Linked DNA regions of Homo sapiens: region 2 is linked to region 1. The links come from fine-mapping of genetic effects on gene expression. Tissue or cell type: whole blood. Region 1 holds a variant in brackets; the other region holds the start of a gene. All regions are shown on one strand. Distances are from middle to middle.

Evidence for each region. PIP is the estimated chance that this variant, and not a neighbour inherited with it, causes the effect.
Region 2: CDO1 starts here. The variant in region 1 is fine-mapped to the expression of CDO1 in whole blood (INTERVAL, PIP above 0.99). The same link has a PIP of 0.9 or more in T cells and blood mononuclear cells.

Annotation. Positions count from the first base shown.
Region 1 is chr5:115,792,634-115,796,970 of GRCh38, reverse strand. No RefSeq gene overlaps it. Among named protein-coding and RNA genes, the nearest start is that of CDO1, 22 kb to the left of the region's middle. The variant G/A (reference allele first, on the strand shown) is at 1,762.
Region 2 is chr5:115,814,965-115,819,131 of GRCh38, reverse strand. It overlaps CDO1 (cysteine dioxygenase type 1), which reads left to right and starts at 2,473. Exons shown (of 5, transcript NM_001801.3): 1 at 2,473-2,904. The coding sequence starts at 2,735. LOC124901049 (a long non-coding RNA gene) reads right to left here and starts at 2,044. Exons shown (of 2, transcript XR_007058908.1): 1 at 1,961-2,044.

The DNA of each region.
Region 1 (4,337 bases):
CCTCCACAAACACACACAGCTTGCCCACCCCGTACTCTGGACAAATAGAACTTTGCTACCTCACTGGTTCTGCTCTGCCTCCTCATTCTGTCTAAAATGCACTCTGCCCCAGTTCCCTGCCCTCTGGGGACATAGCGGCTCCTTTCCAAGGCCCAGCTCAAATATCAATTATTTCAGAAGTTGCCTCAGTGGGAGGCAATCTGTCTACCTTTGGGCTCCCATAGAATTTTATTTTCACTTTCTTATAGCACTTGCCACATTCTGCTCTGTTACAGGAATTAGTTTGTGTTTGCTCTGGTATGAGTTAATACGTTCCTGAGGTACCAATTCTTGCATTGAGTTGTGGCAAGACAATTTTAAAAATTAATTTCATTTTTTAAAATTAACAAGTGATAATTGTACATACTCTTAAGGCACGTGGTAATATTTTGATACATATCATGTATAAGTGATCAGATCAAGGTAATTAGCATATCCATCATCCCAAACATCATTTCTTTGTGTTGGGAACATCAATATCCTCCTTCTAGCTATTTGAAACTATATATTATTGTTAACTATAATCATCCTACAGTGTTGTAGAACTCTAGAACTTATCCCTTCTACTTTGCTGTTATTTTGTATCCTGCTTTTTGAAAATAATTAATTATTTTATTTTTGAGACAAGGTCCTGCTCTGTCAGTCAGGCTGGCATGCAGTGGTGCAATCATAGCTCACTATAGCCTCAAACTACTGGGCTCAAGTGATCTTCCCACCTTAGCCTCCCAAGTAGCTGGGGCTACAGGTGCGTACCACTGTACCTGGCTATTTTTTCTTTTTAATTTTTTTGTAGTGATGGAGGTCTTGCTATGTTGCCCAGGCTGGTCTTAAACTCCTGGGCTCCAACAATCCTCCTGCTTCAGCTCCCCAGAGTGCTGAGATTACAGGTGTGAGCCATCACACTTGGCCTTACCTAAGGTATTTTTAAAAGTCAAAAACCAAGTAACAGCAGTTACAGGGGATGGTATGCAGCTGACACATTCTGTTAAGTGCTATCCTATCCTGCTTTGGTGTGAAGGCCACTGCTGGAGGGGACAGAGCATGCCATTGTCAAGTGTAAGAAACCACTAGGGGAGTGTCTAAAAATGCAGTTTCCTGGACTCACCTCCAGAGAGTCCAAGTCTGTGGGTCTAGGATGAAGACCAGAAATACACACTTTTAACAACGGTCCCCAGAAATCTGGGGGATTCTGATGCTGAAGGTCTACAGAGAACACTTGAAGAAATATCATGCTCATGACTATTATTGGGAGTTTCTTCTACTATAATTCATATGCCTAAATTATTTCTTAGTAACTTTTTGGAACTTTATTCTATTTCTCCTTTGACTTTGTTTCCTAGCCTGCGCCAAACCTCTACAAGGAGCAGAAAGAACACTCAGCCAAGAGTCCTGAATTCTAACCTTGCTCTGTCATTAACTTGTACTGGGCTATTAGGCTTCTAGCTTCTTTGGGCCTCAGTTTCCTTATCATTCAATTAAAGGATTAAAAACAAAAACTGAACTCCATAGAACCCTAGGATTCCCTAGATGTGCCCCAGACCCAAACATTTAGTGAGGGGTGAAGGATAGACTAAGTGGTCTTGTATTAGGGCCTCCCAACCCTCCAACTCCTCTAGCAACCAAACCAGCCGGGCTTTGAAATTTTACTGTACATCTTGGGATTTCAATAATGGTTTTGCCTGCCTAATTACTTCTTTTTTTTAATCCACAGGATTTAAAGAG[G/A]TCTTTAAAGAATCCCTTTGATCTCTGCTGTCTCTAATTTCAGAAACTCTGGCACATGTCTTTTTTGTGGGATTTTTCCACTCCACCATTCACTTAATCTTAATTAATGGGAGTCATGAATCCTTTCAGTACCTCAACCTCTGGCCAAAGGAGGAACTTTGTCTGCTCCCACCAAGAAGCAGGTGCCTCACCCTTTCCTGTTAACAGGTGACTACTGTGCCTGCACATAACCACCACTGCCCAATCTAGGAGGATGTCTCTCTCCCTTATTTGCTGATTGTGGCTGCCCAGCCCAAGGGGTTTCCTGCTAGGGTGATAACACATTGTTCTTGAACAGAGAGAAATAACTTAGAGGGATCATCCTAGACCCACAGACTTGGACTCTCTGGAGGTGAGTCCAGGAAACTGCATTTTTAGACAATCCCCTAGTGGTTTCTTACACTTAATCTGTGGTAGCCAATTTTATTAGTCTGGGGAGGAAAGATTCCCTTCTGGGAAGTGTGTTGTATTGAGAGCCAGGAGCATGAGTGGTTAACGTGGGCATTGTGACAATCAATGCTACTGGGGAATCCACTCAAGAATCATTTAAGCCTAATTGCCAGAGAAGGAAAGTGCTCCATCTGTTTTTTTCTCAGTCTCCACCAGAGTAACCACTTCCCCACCATTTCACCCCCATTAACACTGATGTTCCTGATAAATAACTTCATAGTTGTGGTGTGGACAGAGACAACAGACTGTTCAGAGAACAAAGAGAGTATTTACAAGGTAGATTTCCACTCTGAGAGGCAACACAACATCTTAGGACAAGATGATCCCTCTAAGTTATTTCTCTCTGTTCAAGAACAATGTGTTATCACCCTAGCAGGAAACCCCTTGGGCTGGGCAGCCACAATCAGCAAATAAGGGAGAGAGACATCCTCCTAGATTGGGCAGTGGTGGTTATGTGCAGGCACAGTAGTCACCTGTTAACAGGAAAGGGTGAGGCACCTGCTTCTTGGTGGGAGCAGACAAAGTTCCTCCTTTGGCCAGAGGTTGAGGTACTGAAAGGATTCATGACTCCCATTAATTTAAGAATCAGGGGACACTCTTTCATGTGTATAAATAAGGAAAGTGCAGTACAAAGAAACATCTGCTATCTCTGGACATATCAGAAGACACATATGGTACCTGCCCCAGATTGCCAGCATCATCCTATGCTGGGAAGCACTCTGTCCCCCTTGTCAAATTCCTTCTCTAGAAAACACAGCCTAGCAGCCAAAAACATTTATCTGACCCTGGTCTAACTTGTCCCCACAGCCATCTTAATCACTTCTTGGCCAATAGGACATGTATTATTATCACAGGCAGCCCCTAAGTTGGCTGTCAGATTGTCACCAACAGAAAAATAAATACCTACAGCTCATATATATATATATATATATATATATATATATATATGCACACACACATATATATATATAACTTGCTGATATATAATTAAAATGTTTTTATCCATAATACAATAAAATTTGCCTAAATGTCAGAGAACTCTATTAGCAAACTAAGCTTTGGGGTTAAATAACTTGTAGAAAGTGTGCTTTGGGTGAAATCAATTCAATAAATAAAACAATGTATTTATTCCACAGACATCTGTTAGTCCCTCTGAGGTGCTAGACCTTGTGCAAGGAGTTGTAGCAAATCTAAAAAGAACAAGCCTCCATCCTGAAAAGGAGTATAACACACACACACACACACACACACACACACACACACACACACACGATAAGTACCAAACCAAAAAGAATAATGATAAATGTCATGAAAGAGATATGAACTGAGGACTATGGGACCTGAGAATGGGGAGCTTTTCTGCCTAAAGGATGGGTTGGATCTTTACATGTAGACCTGAAGGACAGGGTATTGTAGGGAGATGGAAAGTCTTAAGGTGGCCAAGGCTCACATACTTCTGTGTCTCATTCATTTAAGAAGGCTTTACTAGTTTGGAAAGTTGTGAATCCAATTTGACTAGAGGGCATAGTGGGAGTGGAAGGCTGAGTGGAAAAGCAGTGGGCAAAGGCTGAAGACTTTGGGTTTCATTCTGTAAACAATAAAGAGAGATCCAGACATAATAGTGATGTGATCAGAGCTGAGCATTAGGAAATTTTACCTGGTTCTTTGTGTAAGTTTGTTGGAAGGAGAGAACTGAAGACATGAAAGTCATTTCAGAGGTCCCTGCAGGAGCTTTGACAGGAAGATCTGGACTAGGAGTTAGCAGTGGAAATGGACAGAAAACAAGGGGACAGAGGAGCCATTGCAGAGGCAGGATTCACAGGATCTGATTGTGGATTGGCTGAAGAGAGAAAGTGATCAAAGATTACTGTGAAATCCCCACCAGGCTCCAAGGAGAAGGAATCTTATACATTTGACCCAGATAAGTCAGGAAGGAACACATCTTGGGAAGATAAAGTGAAGTTTGATGTTGGGCAGTGTCATAGGGAAATAGAATTTATGAACTGGTCTGATTTATACTAATTCTGTTATCAAACTCAATTGTGTTGTTACCCACAGCATATGACCAGAAGGGACATGTGAGTGAG
Region 2 (4,167 bases), 22 kb before region 1:
GAGCTGAGCTTTCGCTCGCTTTTCACCACTGCTGTTTGCCACTGTCACAGACCCGCCACCGACTTCCACCCCTCCAGATCCGGCAGGGTGTCCGCTGCTTTGCTGATCCAGCGAGGCACCCATTGCCACTCCCGATCCGGCTAAAGGCTTGCCATTGTTCCTGCATGGCTAAGTGCCCGGGTTCGTCCTATTTGAGCTGAACACTAGTAGCTGGGTTCCACGGTTCTCTTCTGTGACCCACGGCTTCTAATAGAGCTATAACACTCACCGCATGGTCCAAGGTTCCATTCCTTGGAATCCATGAGGCCAAGAACCCCAGTTCAGAGAACAAAAGGCTTGCTGCCATCCTGGGAGCGGTGGCCACCATCTTGGGAGCTCTAAGAACAAAGACCTGCCCATAAGAATTAGAGATATAGAAAATGAAGAACACAATGCAATATCAGCACACCTCTATTTGGCCAAAATTGGTAAAACTGACAATACCTGGCGAGGATGCGGGGCAACTAGAACTCATACATCACTGTTGAGAATGTGAAATGGCACAGACCCTTTGCAAATTAGTATGTCAATTTCTTGCAAATTTAAACATGCACTGACTAAATGGCCCAGCAATCTCACTCCTAGGTATTTACTCAGGTGAAATGAAAATTTCTATTCACCCGAAAAAACATTTGTTGAATAAATTAATGAATGAATAATAAACGAATGGAGCTATCATAATGTAAAATGACTAGATAATATCTAAAATTGCTGAAACAAAAAAAAATATAAGCCTATTTTTGGAAAAAGGAAGTAACTACCACAAGGAATAGTTAGAAGAGTTAAGAGACTGACTCTTTAAGCACAGGACAGATGGTCAGGAATGGTTAAAAGGGCCTGCTGCTTTTCATTGACCTTCCAGTACTATTGATTTTTTTTAACTACGTGAATATATTACTTTCATAAAAATGTAAAAAGAAAAAGAGGAGTCAGAGAAAGAAAATGAATTGTCAGAAAAATTTAGAAGTTTTATCAACTGAAATGCAGAAAAGATAAATTGTGCTTGCATTTCATTTTTGTTGTTCATTCCAAACATTTATGGATTAGACTAGCTGAAATGAAGTAATTAAGAGACTCAATAGAAAACATTGCCAAGAATAAAAAATAATTTGAGGAAACCATGAAAAGTTTACAGGTTACTCTGTCACAAAATACTTTGTTAATTCACTACCCCGCAGCAACACACATCACCAAGGCTGGCTTCTGGAATGCTTTCTACTTGTAGCCATTTTTGAACAATAGGTGATTCCGCTTTTAACAACACTGTTAGAATATAATGTAGCGAGTTTTACCAGAGATGTTTAAGACTACCTGGCACAAGTAAATTTCATTGTATACATGTATATACACGAGGGAGGGTGATCATAGTCTAGAAAAAAACAGGTCTTCAGAAGTCTAGAACTTTAATAACCTTAAATCCAAATTATTCCCTGCGTCCATCCATAATGAGAAGGAAGAAATCTACACTTGCATTTCTTCCACCTTTCACATCTTTCTCATTTAAATCCTACTGTACTTGATTTGTGTTGTTCCCAACGTACTAGGTGCTATGCATGACGTAGAAACGTGTTTCCTTATATGTATGTACTAGCAGGCTCCTTCAAGCACATGCCTAAGGTTGAAAGATTCAAATATAATTATAGCCTCTTAAATTATTGCGTCAGAGCCCGCCCTATCCCCTCAGAAAAAGCCCCCTTTTACACCATCAAATGAAATATCAGGTTATTTGCACTGGATATTTTTTAAAAGAAAATATTTGATTTTAAAATCAAAGAGTTCTTGGTTTTCCATCATTTCACTAATTGTCTTACTAGAGACCCGAGTCTCCTTTGTCAAAATATATTTCAGTACGCATTTTAAAAAATATGTGTGTGTGTATACTTAAATATATATATATATAAAGTCTTGGACTTATTTTCACCTAGCCTGGGGCATATCGTGGATAGTTTCAATCGACAAAACAGGCACTCTCTGGCCTAGGAGTGGAATCCATCCTCAATTTTCGCAGGCTCCTCACAATTCTCTATTTGGAAGAAGTGTCCCTCTCCTTCCCTTTTCTTTTCCTCCTTTACTCAGCGTCAGTCCCCGCAGCCATCTCCTCCGACCCTTTTTGTCTACGTCCCAGCGTCGCGAACCACAGCGGCGGAGGTGGAGCGGGGAGAGGCGTTAGGCCGGGCGGCTAAAACGCGCCGTTAAAGTGGGGGAGAGATTGCGCGGAGCCCACGCGATCCCTGGGACGCCGGAGACAACGGGGCTCTTGGGAAGGCGCGGAGCCCGGGGAAGCCGGGGATGTGCGCGTGAGCCGTGCCCGCAGGGTCTCCCCGCCTCCGCCACCTTTCTTGGGTGGCTCTCCGCCTCGTCCTCCCTCCGAGGGCCGTTGGTACATTCCTAGTGACTCCAAGCGCTTAAAAGGGGCCCGGGAGGATGAACCCCACAGATCTGAACCTGATTTGTGTGTGCACCGCGTCTCCAGCGATCCCGGATCCACTGCGCTGCCAGGGGCCTGGGGGTGGGTCTCTTGCTGTCTCTGCGACGACATCCTTACGTTTCGGCACTCTAATGCTGGGTTTGTGCGTGTGTGTCTGCTTAGCGGTCTAGCGGGCTGTTAGGCTCCCTCGCCCCCAGCTCCTTGGCTCGCTCAGCTCCTCCACCGCAGCCCAGCAGTGAGACGCGCGCGCAGCCAGCTCCCCACGAGATGGAACAGACCGAAGTGCTGAAGCCACGGACCCTGGCTGATCTGATCCGCATCCTGCACCAGCTCTTTGCCGGCGATGAGGTCAATGTAGAGGAGGTGCAGGCCATCATGGAAGCCTACGAGAGCGACCCCACCGAGTGGGCAATGTACGCCAAGTTCGACCAGTACAGGTGAGCGCGCTGCAGCTTCAATGCCAGGCGGCGCCCACTCGCCCCGTCTGAGGAGGAATGGACGTGGGGGACGCAGCCCAAAGTGACTGGCTCGGGAAGCTCGGGCCGCGCTGCGTCCGCCGCTCGCCCCCTCGCTGGCCAGCCGCGGGGCTGGCACGACTCGCTTGGGGCTCCGCGGCCACAGCGCAGGCGGAAGGTGGATCCTACTGGCCTTGCTGACCTCCGGCCGGGAACGGCGGACAGGCGCCGGGAAGGGAGGCCACCGCGCGTCTGCGAGATTTTCTGTTCTCTTCTCTCCCGCAAACCCCTCTGCTTCTAAACCACCAGTCCTCCTGCCCCTGGCCTCGGGAGCAATGCCCACACTCCCAAGCCATCGTTAACCCCGGGCGCGGAGATGCGGAGAGACCGCACTCAGGTTCGGGCCCTCCTGACACCTTAAGGAACCGTCTGGCCGGACTAGCAGAGGGTGCTCCCAGGGGAGCACTACATCAGCCATCGGGAGAAGTGTGTGATGTTGAAGAAGACAAGTCACCCGCGTCAGTTCTCCATCACTGCGCCTTCGGTCGCCTGCAACCGGGCACCTTATAGCAAGCATTTTTACTCATGTAAAATAGCGTCTTGTGGCCGTCAGCTGCCACTACGGAATTTCTGCTGTTCCCTTTCCCAAACCAATTTAACTAACTTCCCCGACTGTGGGTTTATTCAAATCCACTGCCAAGTTTCGCAGATTAAATATTCGACCGTCGTTTTTTTCAGCCCCCAAATGATCTGATTTATCTTATCCTTGCTTCTGACGATCTGTAATGTAAATTAAAGACCCCTACTTCCCAGATGTACTTGAGTGAGGTGCCCTGGTAAGCTGGCTTTTTTGCAGCCCCGGCTTGGTGATTAAGTCGAATCTCTCTACCAATCCTCCGGGGCCAGAGGTAAAATTTAATCACCCCGAAGTGTGAGAGGTTCTACTTTTTCTGAGCAGTTAGTGCGTCAGTCTTTGTGGTTTTTTGGGTTTAGGGTTAGGAGAAAGGGGTAAGTGAAAGAAAAGAATAAGGAAAGAAGTAAGTTTGTTTTTCTTGGGAGCAGGTTCTTTTAGTCACTCTTCAACATGTGGGATGTTTCGTAAAGTTTTGTTGGCATGGGCGGTTTCAACTGTATTTTAGGATTTGAAATAGAAAAAGTGAAGACCACTAAGGATCCCATTTTTCATATACAAGTGACTTGAGGAAATTCCTTTGGCTCCTATCAGCTTAGTTCATGGTAGAGCCC